Linked DNA regions of Homo sapiens. The protein of the gene in region 1 purifies or fractionates together with the protein of each later gene. This does not show direct contact. Each region holds a gene or a part of one and is shown in the gene's direction. Other genes may lie near its edges.

Region 1 (3,815 bases):
GAGGCTTCGCATTTGTGCAGCTGTCCTCTGCAATGGTGAGGTTCTCATCGATTCTTTCCTTTTTAAAAGAAACAGCTTTAAGAGGCAAATGTGGTTCATCCAGTTTTGAAACTGTCTGAGGCTCCTAAAGCCCAAGATGCAAGGCTCCCTAATGACAGTTTTTGCACTGCTAAATTACAGGACTGATGACTTCAGTAAGTAGTAAAAATAATGTGTATACCTATAGGCAACTGGCAGAATTTTTTGAGCCACAGTTTAGTCCTTGGTACTTTGTTTTTTGTTGTTGTTGTTCTTTTTTGGGATGGAGTCTCACTGTCGCCCAGGCTGGAGTGCGGTGGCACCATCTCGGATCACTGCAACCTCTGCCTCCAGGGTTCAAGCGATTCTCCTGCCTCAGCCTCCTGAGTAGCTGGGATTACAGGTGCCCGCCACCACGCCCAGCTATTTTTTTTTTTTTTTTTTTTTTTTTTTTTTTTTTGAGAGGGAGTCTCGTTCTGTCGCCCAGGCTGGATGGAGTGCAGTGGTGTGATCTCGGCTCACTGCAAGCTCCATCTCCCCAGGGTTCACGCCATTCTCCCGCCTCAGCCTCCTGAGTATCTGGGATTACAGGCGCTCACCACCATGCTCAGCTAATTTTTTGTATTTTTAGTAGAGATGGGGTTTCACTGTGTTAGCCAGGATGGTCTTGATCACCACCTCTGCCTCCCAAAGTGCTGGGATTACAGGCGTGAGCCACCGCGCCCAGCCACGCCCAGCTAATTTTTGTATTTTTAGTAGAGACAGGTTTTTGCCATGTTGGCCAGGCTGGTCTCGAACTCTTGACTTCAAGTGATCCGCTCATCTCAGCCTCCCAAGTGCTAGATGTACTTTGTTTTAGATTGGTTTAGCATTTGCTCTTTTGGTAATACTGGAAACCTTCACATCTTAGAGGAAAGAGAGATATTCCTTTCTTGAGGTTTCATATCTGCAAACACAATAAGGAATTAATTGCCTTTTATTTTTTAATAGAAAACTACTTCTTTGAATGGGGTGGATGGTAGGGAGAGATTTTTAATTGCATTACACGTTTTTTTCCTTCACATTCTCCTTCAGGATGCTTCTCAGCTGCTTCAGATATTACAGAGTCTCCATCCTCCTTTGAAAATTGATGGCAAAACTATTGGGGTTGATTTTGCAAAAAGTGCCAGAAAGTGAGTGGCTTCATTGTCCTTATTTCAAACTACTGCATATGCACATTTGTACAGTGTGCTAACTGAACGCCAAGCCTGTGCCCCAAGTATGTTGAGACACTGTGATCCTCCCTGATTGCCAAGGCCAGGAGGGACACGTTTGTCTTCTTTTAGTGATTATTCCCTACTGTCCTGTGTAACCAGTTGATGAAGTTGCCTGAAATGGTTTCAGATCAGGAGAAAGGCAAGTATGGCAGATGGGTTGAGAACACATGCTTTGCAAACTGCAGCAGTATAGTGCTAACCCATCCAGAAATAACCCATTCCTTCCAGAACAGCGTGCTAATAATTTCATGTATATAGTGCTTAACTCTAACACGGTAAATTTCCCTTTTTTTAGTATCATTGCACATTCAAAAAACTCTTCGTTAGATGGCAGGTTACAAGGTAGAACAATGATACTACAGGGCCACTTGCTTACTGAGGAATTTCCCCATGAAGAGCCCTCCCCCTGTGAAATGTGGCCTTGCTGGCATTTGAGAACTGACAAAGGGTGGAGTGAATCAGTTGGTGGTATAGGGGCACTAATTGTGGGAATACTGTGATAGAATCACATGATTGGATCTTTGTGGTTTCAGAGACTTGGTCCTCTCAGATGGTAACCGCGTCAGCGCTTTCTCTGTAGCTAGTACGGCTATTGCTGCTGCTCAGTGGTCATCCACCCAGGTAAGATCGAGGATCTTTTTGCTCAAGGTAGTGTGGTGGTGGTGCCCAGATTCACAGACGTGACCTCTCCTGTGGTACTCGCAGTATGAGCTCTTTTCTTTTCTTTTTTTTTTTTTTTTTTTTTTTTTTTTTTTGAGACAGAGTATCACTCTCGTCACCCGGGCTGGAGTGCAATGGTGCAATCTTGGCTCACTGCAAGCTCCACCTTCCAGGTTCAAGTGGTTCTTCTGTCTCAGCCTCTTGAGTAGCTGGGATTACAGGTACCTGCCACCACGCCTGGCTAATTTTTGTATTTTAGTAGAGATGGGATTTCACCACGTTGGCCAGGCTGGTCTTGAACTCCTGACCTCAGGTGATCCACCCACGTCAGCCTCCCAAAGTGCTGGGATTACAGCCGTGAGCCACAGCGCCCAGCATCATGAGCTCATTTTTAGGGACTTCTGAATTTTTTTCCTTAATGCCTACTAAGTTTGTCTTTGTCTCATTTTGATGTTTTGTAGTCTCAAAGTGGTGAAGGAGGCAGTGTTGACTACAGTTATCTGCAACCAGGTCAAGATGGCTATGCCCAATATGCTCAGGTAGGTAGATTTTAGCAGCATCCACCTTATAGTCTTGCAGAGTGTGTCTGAGAATAGCAGCTTTAATGGTGGACTTTTCTTCAGTATTCACAGGATTATCAGCAGTTTTATCAACAACAAGCTGGAGGATTGGAATCTGATGCATCATCTGCATCAGGTAGTAAACTTCATCTCCCTTTTACCTTTTGTTTAAGCACTTACAGTTGAAGAAATATGATTAAATGTCCTAACTGGACCAAAAGCTACAAGTCCATTTCTCTGTAAGATTGTAGGGGGCATGGCCGGGCACGGTGGCTCACGCCTGTAATCCCAGCACTTTGGGAGGCCAAGGCAGGTGGATCACGAGGTCAGGAGTTCAAGACCAGCCTGGCCAACATGGTGAAACCCCATCTCAGCTAAAACTACAGAAATTAGCCAGGTGCGGTGGCAGGCGCCTGTAATCCCAGCTACTCAGGAGGCTGAGGCAGGAGAATTGCTTGAACCCGAGCGGCAGAGATTGCAGTGAGCTGAGATTGCGCCACTGCACTCCAGCCTGGGCGACAGAGTGAGATTCTGTCTCAGAAAGAAAAAAAAAAGAATGTAGGGGGCATATTCAGGGCTGTCATCATGTACCCAAGGTTCTGGGGAAGAATACGGTTATTTGTGTACACCAGGAGTTAATACAAGGTCTTAGAGACCATGTTGTGATGAGTTTAATTCTTGGAATTCAACTCTGTATTTCCCCTCTCTGTGTTTGGAGTCGTGAGTGCCCACGTAAGTTCAGGTGAGCAGAGAGGATGTGGCCCTGGAGACTGGTGCTCAGACATCAATCAGAAGAGCTACTCTAAGAAGCCTTGGCTTTAATTTTTGTTTCAGGCTTTAAAAAGCCTTGTGAGTTAAATCTTTCTCAACCCCAGAGCAAATATAGATCCTTTCTTCTCTTCCTTTTCTCTTCTTTTTTTTTTGAGACGGAGTCTCGCTCTGTTGCCCAGGCTGGAGTGCGGTGGCGTTATCTCGGTTCACTGTGAGCTCTGCCTCCCAGGTTCACGCCATTCTCCTGCCTTAGCCTCACAAGTAGCTGGAACTACAGGTGCCTGCCACCACTCCCGGCTAATTTTTTGTATTTTTAGTAGAGACGGGGTTTCACCGTGTTAGCCAGGATGGTCTCAATCTCCTGACCTCGTGATCGGCTCGCCTTTTCCTTCCAAAGTGCTGGGATTACAGGCCTGAGCCACTGCACCCGGCCTCTTCTCTTTTTCTTAGCCATGATACAGAATCCTTAACTTTGTATATCACATCTAGTAGAATTATAAGAAAATGAAAATGTCACAGATTCCAGGGTACTTAGTGGAAGTTAGCTTAT
Region 2 (3,815 bases), on another chromosome or scaffold:
GACCCTGCCAGCCTCCCTCCTGCCTTGGCTCTGGGCACATGTCAGAACCAGATAAAGATGCCCTGGTCTTGGGATGGCTCCTCAAGTGCCACCCACCTCTCTCTGCCTCTCAGAATCCACGGTCCAAAGAGTGCCAACTTGTGGTGACTTAGCCCTGCCAAGACCTTTGGCCCTGGCAGGAAAACCAGATAAAGGGGGCAAACAAGCTGTCAGGATGAGCATTGGTTTGTGAGAGCAGTGCCGGAGCCGTGTGTGTGCCAAAGCTCTGCCTGTTTTTGTGCCAGGAAAGGCTCACGCCACAGCCTCACCCTCGCCACCCACAGCCTGCTGGCTCAGTCACCAGATGCGTGTTTCTTCACATGGTGTTTGGTCCCCAAGTGACAATCTCTGTCTTTTTTGTAAGGTTTCCCTCTCAGCGCATTTAACCGCTTAAACCCTTTATCTCCTTGAGAATCTGAAATAATTGAGGAGTGGACAGTTACTAGTCAGATGAAAATACCAGCTTTGTGGTGAGTAATAGCAGACTAGAAAAATGCAGCTTGCCTTGTAATCAGAGTAGGCCCTCTCTCACCTCCCCAGCCCGCCCTGGGGACGCATATGGGCAAGTCGGGTCTGCACAGAAGCCATGTGAGTGTTGCTTAGAGTCTAGCCTCCCCATCCCTACCCCCCTTCGAGCACAGCAACCCACACTTCACAAGCTTGGACCACTGGCCATCAGCTGGCCAGTCTGTGTCCTTCTTATAGTGGGGTTTGGAAAGAATGAATGAAAAATAAAGAGAATGATGCAATTTCCTCCCCCATTATTATCTTGTTGAGAGTTTTCAGTTATGGACCGGCAGGGGGAGGACAGTTTCTGCTTCCATGTTGGTCTGGTGTCCCAAAGACGCTAAAAACAAACCCACTTGCTTTATTTCAGTGTAAGAGAAAAAAATTAGAGATTTTTCATCTGTTGGTCTCATTAACCAAAATGAAGTGAGCTGAGTTGGGTATAACCTAGGGTGTCTCTCTTGAGCTCTGAAAAGTGTGAATTCTCGTTTTCCCCAGGTTGCCGATATAGAATCTGGCAGACAGATTCAGCTGATCAACCGAAAGTCTCTGCGATCTCTCACTGCCCAGTTGCTGGTATTGTTGATGTCTTGGGAAGGAACCACCCATCTTTCTGTTGAGGAGCTCAAGAGACATTACGAAAGTACCCACAACACTCCCCTTAACCCCTGTGAATATGGATTCATGACCTTGACCGAACTGCTGAAGAGCCTGCCATACTTGGTTGAGGTAGGCACGTTAATGGCTCTTTAGAACTATCATTGAAAACTATCGATTGGGCATTTCCGGATTACCTGATGGTCTAGATTAGAGTGTGTAGAGCTGGAAGGGACCCGAGAGACCATTTCATGGATGAACACGCCGAGACCTCAGGCAGTGAAGCAGCCCTGCCTAAATGGGTGGCAGAAGCCAGTGAAAGCCTGGTCTCCTCATCCTGGCACTGGGGTGTGTTTGTCCCGTTCTAGGATGAAAGCCTGGTCTCCTGATCCTGGCTCTGGGGTGTGTTTGTCCCATTCCAGGATGGATTTCGCTACTGTTTTATCTTTCTGAATGAGATGGTTTATGTGGTGGCTTGAAGAGAGAGATGAGTAAGGTGAGGGCAGAAAGGAAGGTTGGCCAGCCAGTCCCCCAGGCAGCCTTTCAAGAATGGCGCTCCAAGATTGAGAGAATCTTAAGAGAATACTGCATGCAATTCTCGGGCGACAGATATAAAAACCTAGAGTAAATAAATGAAATCCTGGAAAAAATAAGTTACCAAAATTCACTCAAGAAGTTAAAAATTAGACCAATTACCATAAAAGAGACTATAAAAGATCACTGAAATATACCAGTGAAAAAGGCATCAGGACCAAGTGAGATAACAATTGAATTTCAACCAACCCTAAAAGAACAGATAAATCTACCTTTTAAAAAACCATTCTGGGGCCCGGCAAGGTGGTACACGTCTATAATCCCAGCTACTAAGAAGGCTGAGGCTAGAGAATCACTTGAGCCCAGGAGTTTGAGGCCAGCCTGGGCAACATAGCAAGAACCCATCCCCAAGAAAAAAAATACTGTTCTAGGCTGCTGAAAAAGAAAAAAGGAAAGCTTACCATTTATTTTTACGAAGCCAAAATAAATTTAATACCAAAAACATAAGATAGTCCCTTAAAATGATCCTAAATAAGATATTAACAAATGAGCTCCAGCAATTTAAAAGAATGATATGCCATTATCATCTAACTGTGGGACACATCATTAAATAATGAAAGGATATACATCCAGCATTTTCTAAACTCTGTTAATATCTATCCTAAGAACACCAGTTCTGGACAGGTGTTAATGCATATTTCAGGACAAAGGACTTTCCCTGTCCAGCTAAGATTGGGAATATCCTTTCTCTTGGCGATTCCATAGCATGTTAAACACTTTGAAAAGGTTTGTGGTAAAGAAATCTGCTTCCTTACCCTGCATACACAAGGGTTTTGTGTTTGTTTCTTGTTGCTTTTGATGTGTTTTTAAAGAATGCTAGTGTCATCCTCTTATCACAGTGTTTCTTGGAAAACTGGTTTGGAGGTGCAGTTTAATGGCCCCAGTGTTCACTGTGTGTACCGTGATTTGCCAACACAGTTTGCCTCCCCCGATTTCTTCCCTACTCACACACTGTCTCTTCAGACCGCTGCAGCCTTCGACTTGCAAATAGAACTGAAGTTTGCTGGAGGCTATAGCCTTCTCTTGGAGGAAATCCTTGAATATATCCCTCCTCCTTTTCTTTCTCCTCTTCCTTCTTTCCTTCCTCCTCCTCCTTTCTTCTTCTTTGTCTTTTTTGTCATCTTCATCTTCTTCATCTTTGTCTTTGTCCAATTCGTCGTCTTCGTCTTCTTTATCGTCGTCTTCGTCTTCTTCATCGTCGTCTTCGTCTTGTCTTCGTCTTCTTGTTCTTTGTCTTCATCTTTGTCGTCTTTATCTTCGTTTTTGTCTCGTCGTCTTTGTCTTCATCTTCTTTGTTGTTGTCTTCTTTATCTTTGTCGTCTCCTTCTTCTTCGTCATCTTTGTCTCCTTCTTCATCTTCATCTTCTCATCTTCGTTGCCTTCTTTTTCTTCTTTGTCTTCGTCTTCAACTCTGGGCCTTTTCCCTCAGTGGGAGGCCTTCACTTTCCACGGGGCAGGGCCAGTCACTAATATTTCTAATGCTGCGTTTTCTTTTTAACCAGGTTTTCACTAATGATAAGATGGAAGAATGTGTGAAGCTCACAAGTCTGTATTTGTTTGCAAAGAATGTGCGGTCTTTACTTCATACTTACCACTACCAGCAGATTTTCCTTCATGAGTTTTCCATGGCCTATACCAAGTATGTCGGAGAAACTCTGCAGCCCAAGACCTACGGCCACAGCAGCGTGGAGGAGCTCTTGGGAGCAATTCCACAGGTGGGCATTTTTCTCAGCTTCCGGGAGAGCATCTTCTGAACAGCCACAGGCTAACTGTCCTGAACAGAAAAATAAAATGCTGCCAGAATAATGGAACGGCAGGCATTTTGAATTGATCCTTTCAAAACATACTGTTGGTCTAAAGTAAATGATTTTAGCATTTCTCCTTGATTCTTTCTGTAAACCTTTATTAAATCCCTATATGCCAGGTGAGTAAGTTTCAGGCTGTAACTCTAGAAAGGTGTTGGTTAATGGGAGAGTCAAGACCCCCAAGCAGGCAACTAGTCAGGGCGGTCAGGGCAGTGGGCGCGCTGAGGAGGGCCGTGTCAGGGCCCACTTCCCAAGCCTGGGGAGCCTGTTGCA

The links.
Region 2: the proteins of RBM5 (region 1) and MARF1 purify together in Homo sapiens (affinity purification with mass spectrometry; one large-scale study listed by BioGRID and IntAct). This does not show direct contact.

The regions. Positions count from the first base shown.
Region 1 is NC_000003.12:50,105,675-50,109,489, forward strand, and holds part of RBM5 (RNA-binding protein 5), read left to right. Parts: coding exon 1-35; intron 36-1,092; coding exon 1,093-1,190; intron 1,191-1,807; coding exon 1,808-1,895; intron 1,896-2,395; coding exon 2,396-2,473; intron 2,474-2,557; coding exon 2,558-2,630; intron 2,631-3,815. UniProt on the Homo sapiens protein: Component of the spliceosome A complex. Binds to ssRNA containing the consensus sequence 5'-AGGUAA-3'. Regulates alternative splicing of a number of mRNAs.
Region 2 is NC_000016.10:15,601,628-15,605,442, reverse strand, and holds part of MARF1 (meiosis regulator and mRNA stability factor 1), read left to right. Parts: intron 1-1,044; coding exon 1,045-1,275; intron 1,276-3,239; coding exon 3,240-3,452; intron 3,453-3,815.